Linked DNA regions of Homo sapiens: region 2 is linked to region 1. A link means that fine-mapping ties the variant in region 1 to the expression of a gene that starts in the linked region. Tissue or cell type: whole blood. Region 1 holds a variant in brackets; the other region holds the start of a gene. All regions are shown on one strand. Distances are between the middles of the regions.

Region 1 (8,102 bases):
ACTTTTGCCCTCTGGAGAAGGAGCTGAGAAGTGTTTTAAGCAGAAATTTGACTGCATGGGAGAAGTATAGAGTTGAGAAAAGTAGTCCTCTGAGGCTTAAGATAGTGTCATCTAGACTCCAGTTCCCTCATCTTGGGTAGCATAGTAGCCCCAGCCCAAAACTGCAAGCATGATCCCCGTCTGGGTTTCCTTCACAAGCACTGGAGCATCTTGTGCTATGTGCTGAACTCAGGTGGATAAGAGGTTGAGGCGGTTCCCAAAGCTCCTGCTGCACCCAGGTGTTGAGCCTAAATCTGAACCTTGTGGAGAGGTCACAAGAAAGATCCCTAACAGCACTTTGGTTTAGTCAGGGCTAGGTGTCATCACCTGTATGCCCTTTGGCCAAGGAAACCAGAATTTTTCAGGATTTTCCCCACCTCTGGAAGGCTGGAGGAAGGGGAAGACCCACTCAGCAGATTCCCATAGTGCAGGGATCCTCACAGGCATGACTTTGCCCTTTGTCATGGATACTGCAGCTCCCAGACAGTCTTCTGGGCTTTGATCAGCCTGCAATCATCTGACTAGAGCTTGATTTTTGGGGCAGGGAAGGTGGTCCTTATATGAGCTGCCACTTAATGGGCCACTGGGGATTTTTCAACATGAAAGGTACCGAGTCTCCAAATGCTGGTTGTAGGGCCTAAAAACAGGGCTCAACTCCAGGTTCTGCCACTTTCTAGCTGAGTGATGAGGGCTAACGTCTGGGGAGCAAGATCCCTATTTTTTCCCATTGTAAAATTGGGCTAATAAAAGATGCTACCTACTGACTATTAAATAATATATGTAAAGTGGCTAGTTCTGTGTCGGCACATAATAACCACTCAGTCCCTGTAAACTGTTACAATTATTTTCCACTTGGGGCTGCTTTTTGCACAAGGCGATGATTCTGAGAATTGTCCAGTGTCTTTGGTGTGAGGAAGGGAGTCGCTGGATGGTCTGAACCAGAATTTCCTCAGGAGGGGGCTCCTGAAGCGCCCAAAGCCTAATCAAATCCCCCACCTTTCTACCCCTTAACTCCTTCTCCCAGAGTTCTGGGTACTGCCCTTCTGCCGCCCAGAGATCGTGCTGAGGTACAGACGGTTTCTACGTCTTCCTGGTCAGCCGATAGACTAGCATATTCCATAGGAGCACTCCAAGGAAGCCGGAAAGGGCGCCTCCAGGAGGCAGGCGGCCCAGACAGGCTCCCAGAGTCCGAAATCCCTGCTGCCCCAGCTGCCTTTTCTTGACGGAGTCTCATCTCAATCCCTGAGACCGACTACACCGCCCTTCCCGGAGCCGGAGGCAGCTGGCGGAGATCCGGGATCCGAGATCCGGGATCCGGCTCGCCGGCCCGCCGGCTCCCTAGCAGCACCAAGGAGGCAGCGTCCGCAGGAGGTGGAGGCGTTGGCGGGGGGGCGTGCGGGTGCGGTAGGGGTGGGCAGGCGGGGTGGGCGGGGCCTCCGCGGCGGCGGGCGGGGCGTGGGTGGGTCTTCCCTACTGGAGTCACCCCCTCCCCCGGCCGGTCCGCAGCCCCGCCCCGGCCCCTCCCTCCGGCCTGTGCGGCTAGTCCGGCGGCGGCGCCGGCGCGGGGACAGGCGGAGGCGCGGGCAGGGCCGGGCGGACGGGCGCTGGCAGCAGTAGCAGCGCCGCGGGCCCTTCAGAGTGGCCGCAGTCCGAGCTTTGCCCTCGCATCCTGTTCCAACGCGGTGAGTGCGACGGGCGGGCCCCAAGGGTGCGTTTGTATTCCTGTCAGCCCGGGTCTGGGTCGGAGCGTCTGTGGGTGGGGGCACAGATGATTTTCAAAAGCTGTGCCTCTCTCTGCCCACGTGAGGCGTGTCCATGTCCGTGAGAGCAGCAGGGGGATTCTTCGGGCTGTGGCTGCTCACGTGAGGTCCCTGTTTTGAGGCGGGGAGGCGCGGGTGGATGGGTGATGGTTCCTTAGGGGAGCGCGGGGTTTGGGAGCTTGTGTGTGTTGGCGGAGGGTGCTGAACGCTGCGGCCGAGGGTGGTGGTGGTGGTGCGTGCTGAGTGGGACTCTGGAATATTGTGGCCCATCTTGTCTGAAGGGCTCTTTTCTCCCTGGTGCAGACACCTCCACCCCTTGCTCCCCCACCCCCACCCTACCCCACCCCCCGCCCCTTCCATCCTCTGGTACCCACAGGCCCACCAGTCAGGATGGAGGACACCCTTTCCTCCCCATGCACTGCTCTGTGGACAGAAAGCCTCATGTGGAGGCTGTTTTTTTGTAGGAAAGGACCCCTCTGGTTCTCCTGTAGCCTGAGCCCTGCCTGGAGGACCCCAGGCCCCTCCCTGGTTCTGACCTCCTCCCTTCTGCAATTGGCTTCAGATCCTGGGCTGCAAACCTGCAGGGACAGATGGTTGCAGGTTGGAGGGGCAGGCTGCACCCCAGGGAGGTCAGTTCGACTGAGGGCAGGCCCTGGGCTTGTTCTTGGTGTGGGGGTTCTCTGATGTGGACAACAGAAACTCAGGACTGGCCCTAGCAGGAAGATCACATCTGGGAGGTCACAGCAGGTGCAGAAAACATCACAGGTCTCCCTTGGCCAGTCTGTCTAGCTCACTGGTGCCCATTCATCCCCTAAGCAGGGGATGATTTGCTGCAGAATTGGAATCAGAGCTGCAGGCCTGACAGTAGCCCTGCCTCCTTGGGCTTGTATGCCTCCAGTGACAGAGCACTTGCTACTTTCTGCTGTGGAAAAGCTTCCTTATATTAAGCAGAGGTCTCTCTTCTTGGGACTTTATTCACTTGTCTTGTTACTGCCATTACTTTTGCATCTCTCTCTGATGAAAGGGAACTGCAGAGATTTAAACAGAGCTCTCCTGTAACCAACATATACTGAGTACTTCCTGTGTGCCAGGTACTGCCACAGCCACTTAGGAGACAATGGCATTCTTGCCGAGAGAACTTGAGCAAAGAGTCCATCGTTGGGATAGTATAGCCCAGGTTCAGAAAAGCAGAAAAACCATATGGTTAGAATAGAGAGCGTTCATAGAGTGTCACAGGTGACTTAAAACTCAGCAAACATTTATTTACGGGGGCGAGGGGGCAGGGGGAGTGTGGAGGGGAGGCAACTAAGACCATCCTCTAACACATTTAGCCTAACAGTGGAAACTAGAAGTCAAATCATCGAGGTAGTACAAGATGGGATTTAATCATGGGCTCATGGTACAATCTGTGGAAGCCCTTGGCTTGAGAGGGAACCTTGGGAATCTCAGATTTTGAGAAAACATCCCTCTTCTCCCAATTTACAAATAAGGGAATGGGGTTGGAACTTACCTAGAGTTTCACCTTGTGTTAGTGGAGTTAGTTACAGCATTAGGACTAGATCCTAGATCTCCTAACTTTTTAAACCTAGCCAAATTTCAGAGGCAGAATTGAGGATGTAGTCATAGCTTGTATCTGAAAGGTGAAAGAAAAGGTGTAATTGAGAAGACTACCAGGGTTCTCGCTTGTGTGGGTGGGTGAGTGGTGGTGCCTTTTATTTATTTATTTATTTAGATTTATTTATTTTTAGCATATTTATTTTTATGCTTTTAGGATGTAAAAGCATCATGTATAACCTCTGCCTTTTGGAGATTTGCAATCTTGTCCATCTGTTCCATATTTCTTAGTTTCTCATGTTTCTGTTTCTTTACTCACTGTTTTCCCAATGTACGTATCAATGTCCTATTTGTCTCTCAAGACCCAGCTCAAATACCCCTTCCTCTGGAAGCCTTCTTTATTCTGTACCATCCTCAGAGTTAGGTACTTCCTCCAGTTTGCTGCTGTAGCAATTTGAACATGTCAATATCATGGTACTTATCACATTGTAGTTACGTGTTTCCATTTCTGTTTCTCACATTAGTCTAAAAACTTGTGAAAGACAGGGAGTGTGTCTGATTCAGCTTTGTGTCTCTATTTCACAGCTGAAGGACCTGGCCCACAGTGTGCCCAGAGAAGTTTGATTGAATGGTTCATTCACTTTACTCAGTCTGGCAATGTTGGGGGAGATGGCCATGAATTTCATTGCTTTCCTTCCCTGCTAATCTTATTTAAAGGATTCATTGGCTTTAAGGACTTTGCCTCATCCAAGGCTTCATTTGTTTCAGAGAAAGCCCAAAGACTGTAACCTGCAGTCATTTGTCATTTTTTTGAGGTCTCAAATGATCAGATAAACCTGGAAGCTAGTGAGTAGACGTGAGTTATTTTAGCAAGCAAATGAGCCTAGCTGACCTCTCGCATCCATTTTCAACAATGCCTTGGTTACCTCCATTCACAACTGTGTAACTCATGTGTACTGGGAATCCTGTGAGATTGTAGGAGGAAGTCCTGGGGAAAATTAATGCTATTTGAGAATTTGGAGAAACTGAAAAGCCTTGAAACACATCCTTTGCAGATGTCCAGGATCTAGTGGAGTCAGCACTGGCTGTCTTCATTTGTTCACAATCAGCTTCTTGCTTGACTCCCTGCATCTGGCTTCCTGTCCTCCATCCCCTGAAAACCACATGCTCTGAGGTTAATGAAAGCCTCTTTGGGGCTTAAATAATGGGACCTCTGCAGCATTTCACTCCCTTGTTCATGAAGTTCTCTTCTCCCTTGGCATTCATGACATCTGTTTCCTGATTCTCTTGCTTCTCTGGTTGTGCCTTCTCA[A/G]TCTTCTTTGCAGACTCTGCTTCCTGGGCCTATCTCTTAAATATTGAGGTTCCTTGGGACTTGGTGATAGACCCTCCTTTCTCTCTTTACCCTCTCAGGGTAATGTCATCCACGCCCATGGCTTCAGGAACCATCTCTGCACCAACATCCACATTCATGTCTCCAGGCCAGACCTCTCTCTTAGGCTTCAGCGTATCTTTCCAACTGCCAACTGGACCTCTCCACTTGAATTACATCCCATAGGCACCTCAGATTCATCACATTAAACAGTGAACTCTAGCTGGGTGCTGTGGCTCATGCCTGCAACCCCCACGCTTTGGCAGGCCAAGGCAGGAGGATTAGTTGAGCCCAGGAGTTTGAGGCTACAGTGAGCTATGATCATAACACCACATTCCAGCCTGGACAACAGAGTAAGACCCTGTCTCTTAAAAAACAAAAACAAAACTGAAAAAACCTTAAAAGATAAACACCAAACTTATCACCCTCTCATCCAAACTGCTCTTCTTTGAGAGTTTCCAAAGAATCATCTGTTAATTCCTTCTTCTCCCCTAACTCTTCACATGTAAATACCCAGCCACCAAGTTCAGTTGATATCCCCCTGCAAAATTGATTTATCTTGGCCTGTCTTTGCTATTCTCCTAATCAAGGCAGTTTCTTAATTTTCCGTCCTTGCCCTTTAAACTATTTTCCACATAGCAGCCAAAAATGTACTTTTGTCACTCTATACTTAATAGCCCTCACCACTACCAAAGTTTTCCTTTGCTTTTTGGATAAATCCTTCATCCCCTAGCAGGTAAGCGTAAAGTCTAAACTCCTTAATAAGACCAACAAGGCATTGCATGATATATCTTTTGCCTACCTCTCCATCTTGTTTCTTAGCCCTCCCATCACAGTGTCTGATTCAGCCTCCTGATGCAAAAGGCACCATACTCTCTGTAACTCATCCTCAGCTTGAACGTTACTTTCTTTAGGAGTTACTAAAGTTACTTTCTTTAGGAGAAAGGTTGGCCTCCAACCTCTGGACCCACCCCTGCTCCAGATCTAGGTTAGGTAACCTTTGTACTCCTGGAGCAATTGGTGCTTCCTCATCATGGTCTTCACCACTTTACATTGCAGTAATCTATTTATTAGATTGTGGAATCCATGAAGGCTGAGCTGTGACTATTTGTCTTTGTGTCCCCAGGCCTAGCAGCAGTGTCAAGTGAATGCTGAATGAGGGAGTGAGGTGCCTTGAGAACTAAGCCATAAAGTATGGTGGGAATAACCAATACAGGGATAGCAGAAGGCAGTATGAGAAAGGAGAGTAAAGTCTGGCTCTGAGACCAAGGCCTTATAAGTGTCTGCTGTGATAAACAGTTCACTTGAACCACCACCTATAGGATCTTGGGGGCAAATCTCTAGAGCACAGTGGGATGGAAGAGCTAGGACCCCACGGGAGGAAGAGAATCTCAGATTCAGGCAGGGGTATGGCCTCAGCGGCTGCATGCCCAGTAAGTCTGGGAGGGGAACTGAAGCAGGAAGGGGAGGAGTGGGGGAGGAGCTATTGGTCCTTGGACATAGCCCAATCCCCGCCCCTGTGTGACAGTCTGGGAGAGCCCCTAGGCTTGGAGAGAGGTGGAGCCTGGCATCCAGCTACCCCAGCAGGACCCAGCAGACCACTCCCACTCTTCCTCCCAGCCTTTCCCTTCACCAGACAGAGGCTTCAGCTTGCCTCCCGCCTCCTGGTCCTTCCGCCAACCTTCAATCTGTCCTCCCTCCTGCTATGTTTTCCTGGTATTAAGTCTTCAGACTCCAGAACCCATTACAACTGTAGAGAGAACATCAGGATGCCAGTGTCTACATCAGCAGAGGATACTTTCAGGCATGCCCTTCACACTCTACCCAGGCCCACCCTTACACAAACATAAGGCACAGCAACTCAGCCCTTCTATCCCTCCCCAAATCTAGACTCGCTCCTGCATTCATTCATTCATTCATTCATTCATTCATTCACAGTCTTTAGAAAAAGGCTCATAATGCATCCAACAGCACAGACAATGGTGACCTGGTCCTATTCATTGCCTATTTTGGAGTAATCCAGCTGTTGTTCTGCCACCCTTCATGACCAAATCCCTGCCATGTATTGTCTACATCTGCTGTGTTAACTTCATCTCCCATTTACTCTTCAGTCACTCTGACGTGGCTTCTGCCCCTGCCACCCCACCACAGCCAAATCTAGTGGGCACTCTTCAGTCCGTTTCTTACTTCACCCCTTCTTTTTCTTGCACTGTTCTGTTGATTTCTTTGGTTTCACATTCTTTTGGTTTTCCTACCATTTCTCTGGGTTCTCTTTCTCAGAGTCACCTTTGCTGGCTCCCCTCTCTTGTGCCAGGCCCTTTTCTTATCACTGTCTGCCCTCTGTCCCTAGGTGGGCTCATGTCTTCTCATTGCTGAAAGTGCCATTTATATGCTAGTGATCCCAAATCAATAACCAGTCCAGACTTTTCTCTTGAGCTCCTGTATTCTGTTTCTTACTTGACAGCTCTACCTGGACATCAGAGAGACACATTGTACTTAGCATACATAGAACAGAATGCCCCAAATCAGCTCCACCTCAGCTTTCACTGTCTCTATTCATGGCCCATCACTTGCTAAAATGAGAAAGCTAAGTCATAATTGACATCCCTCTCACACCCAGTTCATCTTGATGTCCTTTGGATTTCTCTTTTATTATTTATTTTATTTTTATAGAGATGGGGTCTCATTATGTTGCCCAGACTGATCTCGAACTCCTGAGCTCAAGTGAACCTCCTTCCTCAGCCTCTCGAAGTGCTGGGATTACAGATGTGAGCCACCTTGCTCGGCCAATGAATATTTCTCAAATCAGTCCAGCTTTTTGCTTGTAGCTCAGATGATACCCTACATTATCTTACCCAAAGAACTTTGGTAGCTTCCTAACTGTTTTCTCTGATTCCACTCTGGCTTCTCTTTGTCTTCAATTCTCACAGCTTGCCAGAGTAGCTTTCTAATTTATTTTCACTTATTTATAAACCACATCATCCCCCCCTCCAACTTAGGATAAAATCACTTTTTTTTTTTGAGACAGAATCTCAACTTTGTCTCATGCCAGGCTAGAGTGCAGTGGCACGATTATGGCTCACTGCAGCCTCGACCTCCTGGGCTCAAGCAATCCTCCCACCTCAGCCTCCCAAGTAGCCTGGACTACAGGTGTGTGCCACCATGCCTAGATGATTTTTAATTTTTTTGTAGATATTGGTCTCATTATGTTGCCCAGGCTGATCTCCAATTCCTGGGCTCAAACGATCTTCCTGCTTTGGCCTCTGAAAGTGCTAGTATTACAGGTATGAGCCACTGCACCCAGCCAAAATCACATTCTTAATGGCGGTTATAAGGTCCTTCATGATCTCATCTCTACCTATCTTCCCAAACTCACCTCT
Region 2 (8,083 bases), 26 kb before region 1:
CCCAGGGATAACAGTGCAATCCTATTCTAGAATTCATATCAACAATATGGTTTATAACCTTTATACATATGTCCTTGATGAACTGTTGTGTTGGATCAGGACATCTTAAATGGTATAATTGCTCTTATAGGTTCATTTTCTCAGCAAAGTCCTATATTATATAGTATATTCAGAAGATCGCAAAACCAAGGACATTTGCTCCTCTACGGGTTCCTGGTGTCCAATCAGCTGTGGGCTCATTCTGCCTGATGTCTTCACACAAGTCCTCAGACAGCTACCTCTTTCAGGCCTCTCAAACTGCTATCCCTAACCCCATGCAAGCCCTGCTGAGCTCCCAGTTCCATCCCATTCTCTGTCTCCTTCTCTGCCTGGAGAAAGCTGAAGTTTTCAGCCATTAGCCAATTCCCTCAACTTCAGTTGCCTTCCCCCACACACTTATCTGTCCCCCGATTTCAGAGGAAGAGGTATCCTTTCTTCTCTGTAAGATTAATTCCTCCATCAGTGCTCTGGACCCCTTATTCTCTATGATATATTTTTAATCTACTCTTCTTCTTACCTTAGTCTATTTATTCATTTAGTCTACGAATATTTATTGAGCACCTACTTCTCAAGCACTGTGTTAAGGGATATAAACATCTCTCTATCAAAAAAAAAAAAAAAATCCCTACCCAGACACCAAAATTCTTTCAAGCTGCTGCCCTGCTATTTGTCTTTTCCCTTCAAGCTAAGCTTCACAAAAAAAATCGTAAAATGCGATTTCCACTTCATCTTCCATTCACTCCTCAATGCACCACAATCTAGCTTCCTCCCCACAAAACTTAACCTCTTCCTTGTTACTACATCCAATGAACATTTTCATTCTTCTTACTTGTCTCATTTAACATGTAATACTACTGACTGCTCCCTCCTCCTTGAAACTCTGTTTGATGTTTTTGTTAATCTAATCTAGACTTGAACACTCCCCCCACATGCTTTCCCCCTAACTACACTCCCTCTCTCTCTCTCTCCCACCTGCAGAGAAGCAGCCAGGCAAAAGACAGTATTCTTTTGTTTTATAGCACTTATTACAATTTGTAATTATATTTTACTTGTTATCAACTTAACTATATCTCCCTAACTAAACTGTAATACCTCAAGTGAAGGGATTGAGTCTGTCTCATTCACTTCTGTATCCCTAGCATCTTGCAGATCCTAATAAATGTAGCTATCCAACACTTATTGAATGAATGAATGCCTGGCAAACCACTCCGGGAGAACGTAATGCAAATTAAGCCATATTAGCTAGACCTCAGAGGTTTACTGCCAGGTTCAAAGGGAGGGCAAAGAACTTGATCCCTTCCCAACATCTCAGCCCATGCCAATTCAGTCAAGTTCTCCCAGGAAAGGAAACTTGTACTCAAGGCACAGGGCAGCTCTTTGAAAAAGGAAAAGATTCCAATAGGGCCACCATAAATTTATGGCATTGGCCACCTCCCATTAGGGCCCCAGGAGCCTGCCTATCTATCTAACATTAGGCTTTAATGGAAAGACTTGACCCAGCCATAAACTTACAGCAAAAACTGAGGAAGCCAACCTTAATTAAAGGTAAAACTAGCCTTCTTCCCGAACAGTAAATGTGCCACAGACAGCTGCAAAGCATTGTCTAGAAAATGAGGCCAGAGGACAAGGAGAATTCCAAAACTAAAGTTAAAAAACTCTCTTGGGCACGGTGGCTTATGCCTGTAATCCCAGCATTTTGGGAGGCCGAGGTGAGCAGATCACTTGAGACCAGGAGTTGGAAACCTAGCCTGGTCAACATGGCGAAACACTGTCTCTACTGAAAATACAAAAATCAGCTGAGCGTGGTGGCATGAGCCTGTAATCCCAGCTACTCGGGAGGCTGAGGCAAAAGAATCGCTTGAACCTGTGAGGCAGAGGTTGCAGTGAGCCAAGGTCAGGCCACTGCACTCTAGCCTGGGCGACAGAGTGAGACTCTGTTTCAGAAAAAAAAAAAAAAATCGAAAGTTAGAGAACGCTGAGAAGAGAAGGTCTCTGTAAGCATTCTGAAATCCTGTAGAGAGCTCTGATAGCCAGATATTTTAAAAAAGAAAACAATAGGGCCGGGCGCAGTGACTCACGCCTGTAATCCCAGCACTTTGGGAGGCAGAGGTGGGCGGATCATGAGGTCAGGAATTCGAGACCAGCCTGGCCAACATAGTGAAACTCCGTCTCTACTAAAAATATAAAAATTAGCTGAGTATGGTGGCACGTGCCTGTAGTCCCAGCTACTCAGGAGGCTGAGGCAGGAGAATCACTTGAACCCGGGAGGCGGAGGTTGCGGTGAACCGAGACCATGCCGTTGCACTCCAGCCTGGGCGACAGAGTGAGACTCTATCTCAAAAAAGGAAAGAAAGAAAGAAAGAAACAAAAGAAAAATATATCACTCAAGGGGCCAGAGTGCCCACACTGGCAGGGCAAGAAGAAGACTCTGGAAGGGTCAAAATGAAATTCTATCCAGTAGTGCTGCCAACTCCACTCTGCCTTGGAGCCGGTTTAAGTCACATAGACATGTGGGAAGGACACTCGGACACACATTCCCCAGGGGTACCTTGAGGGAAAGACCCAACATCCAGGAATCAACTCACAGTAGGCCCAGGCAATGTTCAGTGATTATGAATGAATTATAGAAAAATAATTAAGGAGACTTCTGACATCATCTAAGAAAAAAACCTGGAAACTGAAAAGTCAAGCTGTTATTCTAAAGCTTTGGCTGCCTCATAGCTGACTTCTGATTTTCATTAATTTCTGTATTTCTCTATGGGGATTAAGACTAACACCACTGGGTTTATTTTGCAGAGAAAAAGGAAGAGGAAAGTAGCCTCACACTAGCTTTGTGTGGAGTTGGGCTAATCCCTGTGATAAACAGAGAGCTGGATCTAAACTTCCAAGTGACCCCAGAGGCACCCATAAAACAGCAACTTTTTCTCCTCTGCTCAAGCCCTAGACTGAGTCCCTCACTTACCTGGTCTCTTTTCTTCCAACAGGCTCCACCTCTGCATTGTCAGTGTCACTGCTTTCATACCGTACAGGGATGTCCGCTGCCAGTGCCAAGGGAAGGAGACTAAGTCCATCCAGCCACACAGCCTCTTCTAGGGCCACCTGAGCACCAACAATGCCCAGGCAGCGCTGTAGCTCAGGCAGTGTCAATGGTCGCAGCCAGGTGGCCAGCTCCTCCTTTACTTGCTGCCTGCTCCACTGGGCCTGCACAAAAGGGCAAGCTGGGCATGGGGGCCTGTGATGGAGCCTCCGCTTCTGGGGACAGCAGTCAGCATGGGAAGCACTGTCTAACAAAGAGCTGTCTGGAGGAAAGGCCTGGACAATGGCACCTAGCAGGTCCAGATGGAGGTGGGTTTGGACCCAGGGTGCCCAGCAGTACAGCTGCTCCAGGAAGGGCAGCAAATCAAGGTGGCCAACTAGCAACTCACGATATGGAGGCAGTAGACCCAGTACTGCATGAAGATAGCGCCAAGCTGCAGGGCTACTGTCCTGCAACACAGCTGAGAACAGAGTTCGGAGCTCAGCTAGCAGGAGTTCCAGCACTGTGGGCTGCTCTGACTCAGTCACTGGCTTCACGAACTGCCTCTGTTTCTGCTGGCAGGCCAAGGGCTGTTCTTTGCTGTCCAAGACACATATGGAGTGCCAAGACTTAAGGGAATCAGATGATGTCTCATCAGAAGACAAACCTACCCTCCTCTCCTCCGGGACCATGAGGAGCTGGGCATTCAACTGCTGTCGAAGTGACCTTGCCCATAGCTCAGGCTCCAACTGCCAGTTCCAGGATGCCAGATGCGGGGCCTCACCTGCATGGGCCAGCCCAGCAGAGGGGCCAGAGAAGGGACCTCAGGCTCTGGGCAGGGGATGGTCAGAGTCAATGGGGTTAGGAGGAAGAAAGGACCTGGGACAGGGAAATAGATGGAGCTACAGAGCAGAGCCAGACCAGCAGAGAGCCTTTCCTGAGACCCTCAGGCCCTCCCTACTGCTTCCCCAAAGACTCTGGTAAGGAGCAGGCCTAAGACAGACGTGAGAGCCCTCCTTGCAGAAGAGTTCCTTCTTACCTCCCAGTACCCTGTCCCCCTCACCTGGCCTAGGGGGGTTAGGAGGCAAGGCAAGGGAAGAGAGCCCGATCTGCTGATGAGGTTTCATTGAAGAGTGCCTGCTGGAGCAGTGAATGAACTTAGACTTGAGTTCCAGTCTGAGGCTCACCCTAATCATAGCCACCCATACACGGAGAGACTCGCACACAGACGTGCAATCACCTGAAGAGGCAAACTGACACACCGACAGAGCTCACTCTGAACCTCGGTCACAGCAAGGAATCTGCACTCGAGCTGGCGATCGCCTGAAAAACGGGTTAACAGGTCGTCACTCGAAGGCAGCAGAGCCCCAGTCCCATGACGTCTTCGCCCACAGCCTAAGGAGGTCGTGAAGACAGAAAGCCGAGGAGCAGGCACAGCAAATGATGGTCAGGATGCAGGTAGGGGAAGACGTTAACAGGCAAAGGAGGGGGCTGGGAGAGCGGGGAAGAGGAGGCGGACTCTGTGGGAGGGGGTCCTAGGGAACAAAGAGAAATGGATCCGGAGCCGAGGACTCACCCGCAGCTCCACCCGCACCCAGCTGTTAGAACCGTTACAAGATTCCAGAAGGACCGAGTCTTTGCCAGGAGCATCCGGGGGAGCCAGAAAGAGGAGGGGCCAGGGTCCGATATGGGCGGGGCCGAGAGGGCAGAGCCCAAGCCTGGAGGGGCAGAACTAGGTTCAACCTGTGGGCTAAGGCTTGCCTGGGACAGGGACCTGTAGAGGACCAGGCGGGGTCTGAACTGCACGTGCAGTACGGTTGACTCGGGAGACTAGCAATCCAGAGGGTGTCGTAAGCAGGTGTTTATATCCATTCGCTGAGTATCTAAACTAGTGCCAGGTCTTTGGTATGTCTTTGGTACTCCCCCATCCCCACCCCCAACGTATCCATCTACCCTATCCCACCTCCCCAAAAGAAGCCCGAATAAAACAAAATCCTTGATCTCAAGGAGCTCAACATCTATTTGGCACGGGGGGAGGGGGATTTTTTGGGGAAGGGCTTATGGAGGGGCTAATTTTTAAAAATTAAGTTGAATGAGGCCGGGCGCGGTGGCTCATGCCTGTAATCCCAGCATTTTGAGAGGCCGAGGCGGGTGGATCACGAGGTCAGGAGATCGAGACCATCCTGGCTAACACGGTGAAACCCTGTCTCTACTAAAAATACAAAAAAATTAGCCGAGCGTGGCGGTGGGCGCCTGTAGTCCCAGCTACTGGGGAGGCTGAGGCAGGAGAATGGCGTGAACCCAGGAGGCGGAGCTTGCAGTGAGCAGAGATCGCGCCACTGCACTCCAGCCTGGGCGACAGAGGGAGACTCTATCTCAAAAAAAAAAAAAAAAAAAAAAAAGTTGATGATTAAAATAAAAAAAGAAATTCAGCCCACCTCTCCTCTGAAATCAGATTAGTATATCCAACTGCCTACTTAATGTCTCCACCTGGAGAGCTTATAGGTATCTCAAACTTAAAATGTCCAAAAGCAGGCTCCTAACCACCCTTTCCCCACCAAAGAAATGCTGCTCCTTTCACTGTCTTTCCCACCTCAGTCAATGGCAAATCCATTCTTTCTGGTTTCTCACACCAAAACCTTGGAGTCAGCTTTGAGACCTCTTCCAAACCCCTTCTTTCTCTTTCCCTCTTCTTTTTCCCTTTCTCTTTCTCTCTCTCCCCCTCCCTCCATAAGTAATCCTTCAGGAAATTCTGCTGGTTGTGCCTTCAGAATATATCCAGAATCCAACTATTTCCCACCATCTTAAGTACTACAACCTTGGTCTAAGCTGCTATCATTTCTCACCTGGGTTTTTCCACAGCCTTTGAACTGTTCTCCTTGCCTCAGATCCTTCTCATGCTTCTCACCATTGCCCCTACAATCCATTCTTTTTAGAGCAGCCAGTGATCCTTTTCAAATATAGGCAGATCCTATAACTCCTCTGCTCATAGCTCACTAATGCCCCCTCATCTAATTCCTTCAGCTGAAGGCCAAAGTCCTATCATGGCCTACAAATTGCTGATAACTGCCTGCTACCTCTGTAGGCTTCTCTCTTCACATTCACACTCTACTACTGCTGTGCCTGAATCACACCAGCCATACCCCCACCTCACAGACTACATACAAGCTGTGCTGTCTGCTTGTGTATCAGTTAGGAGATACACAAGTTATGACTGTTATTTATTTATTTTTTTGTAGAGACAGGGTCTCACTATGTTGCCCAGGCTGGTCTCGAGCCTCTGGCCTCTAGCAATCCTCCCACCTCACCCCTAAAGTGCTGGGATTACAGGCGCGAGCTATTATGCCCGGCTGTGATGGTTAATTTTATTTGTCAATTTGACGGAGCTAAGGGATGCTCAGATAGCTGGTAAAGCATTATTTCTGGGTGTGTCTTTGAGGGTATTCCTGGAAGAGATTAGTATTTGAATAGGTAGACTAAGTAAAGATCATCCTCACCAATGTGGATGGGCATTGTACAATCTGTTGCCTAAACAGAATTTAAACAGGCAGCTGGTGGACTTGCTGTTTTAGCTGAGACATTCATCTTCTGTCCATGGACATCAGTGCTCCTGGTTCTCAGGCCTTCAAACTTGGATTGAATTCCACCACCAGATTTCCTGGTTCTCTAGTTTGTAGACAGCAGATTGTGGGACTTCTCAGCCTATCAGTTCTGTTTCTCTGGAGAACCCCCACTAACGCGCAAGTTTTCTGGAGCTGCATAACAAGTTATTACAAACTAAGCAGCTTAAAAACAACACCTATGTAGTACCTCACAGTTCTGTAGATCAGATGTCCAGCATGACTTTACTGGATTCTTTGCTCAGGGTATCATAAGCCTGAAGTCAACATGTTGACGGGGCTACTCATCTGGTGGCTCTAGGGGGTGGGGGGTGTGGGGGGATCCACTTCCAAGCTATTATTGTTGTTGGCAAGATTCAGTTTCTTGCAGTTCTAAGACTGATGTCCCTGTTTTCTTCATGGCCATTAGCCAGGAGCCACTCTCAGGTCCTAGAGGCCACCTGTCTTCCTTGACATGTGGTTCCTCCATTTTCAAGCCAACAACAGTGCCTCTAACCCTTCTCATGCTTCACACTTTTCTGATGTCCCCTTCTGCAACCATAAAGAAAACACTCTGCTTTTAAAGGGCTCATGTGACTCATGTGACTAGATCAGGCCCACCCAGACAATCGCTCTTACAGTCAACTATGCCATATATTATAACCTTCTCACATAAGTAAAATTTGTCACATTCACAGTCCCATGGAATATGCAGCGTATACTAGGGAGATATATACTAGAGAGCAGGAAATCTCAGAGACAGTGGTCCCCAACCTTTTTGGCACCATGGACCAGTGTAGTGGAAGACAATTTTTCCACGGACCAGGGGAGGGGTTAACGGTTTCAGGATGATTCAAATGCATTACATTTATTGTGAGCTTTACTTATTTTACTATCACATTGTAATATATAATAATTATACAACTCACCATAATGTAGAATCAGTGGGAGCCCTGAGCTTGTTTTCCTGCAACTAGACAATCCGATCTGGGGGTGATGGGAGACAGTGACAGATCATCAGACATTAGATTCTCATAAGGAGCATGCCACCTAGCATGTGCTATTCACAATAGGGTTCATGCTCCTATGAGAATCTAATGCCACCAATGATCTGACAAGAGGCAGAGCTCAGGTAGTAATGTGAGCGATGGAGAGTGGCTGTAAATACAGATGAAGCTTCACCTGCTCACCCACCACTCACCTCCTGCTGTGTAGCCTGGTTCCTAACAGGCCATGACTGGTACCAGTCTGTGGCCCGGGGGTTGGGGACCCCTGATCTAAAACTTCTACCTACCACACAAATGCTGTAATAAAAAGACCCAAAATATCATGGCTTAAACATGATAGTTTATTTTTTTCTCTCACATAACCATCCAAATATAAGTACTCTGAGGCTACCACGGTAGCCTTCAGTTGTTCTGCCTTCTCC

Evidence for each region. PIP is the estimated chance that this variant, and not a neighbour inherited with it, causes the effect.
Region 2: it holds the start of DNHD1, and the variant in region 1 is fine-mapped to the expression of DNHD1 in whole blood (TOPMed, PIP above 0.99).

The regions. Positions count from the first base shown.
Region 1 is chr11:6,467,410-6,475,511 of GRCh38, reverse strand. TRIM3 (tripartite motif containing 3) reads left to right here and starts at 1,571. Exons shown (of 12, transcript NM_033278.4): 1 at 1,571-1,721. RefSeq lists a silencer at 1,445-1,674 and enhancers at 1,032-1,970, 1,971-2,910, 6,099-6,393. The variant A/G (reference allele first, on the strand shown) is at 4,666.
Region 2 is chr11:6,493,880-6,501,962 of GRCh38, reverse strand. DNHD1 (dynein heavy chain domain 1) reads right to left here and starts at 4,683. Exons shown (of 43, transcript NM_144666.3): 1 at 4,632-4,683; 2 at 4,296-4,378; 3 at 3,002-4,192. The coding sequence starts at 3,747.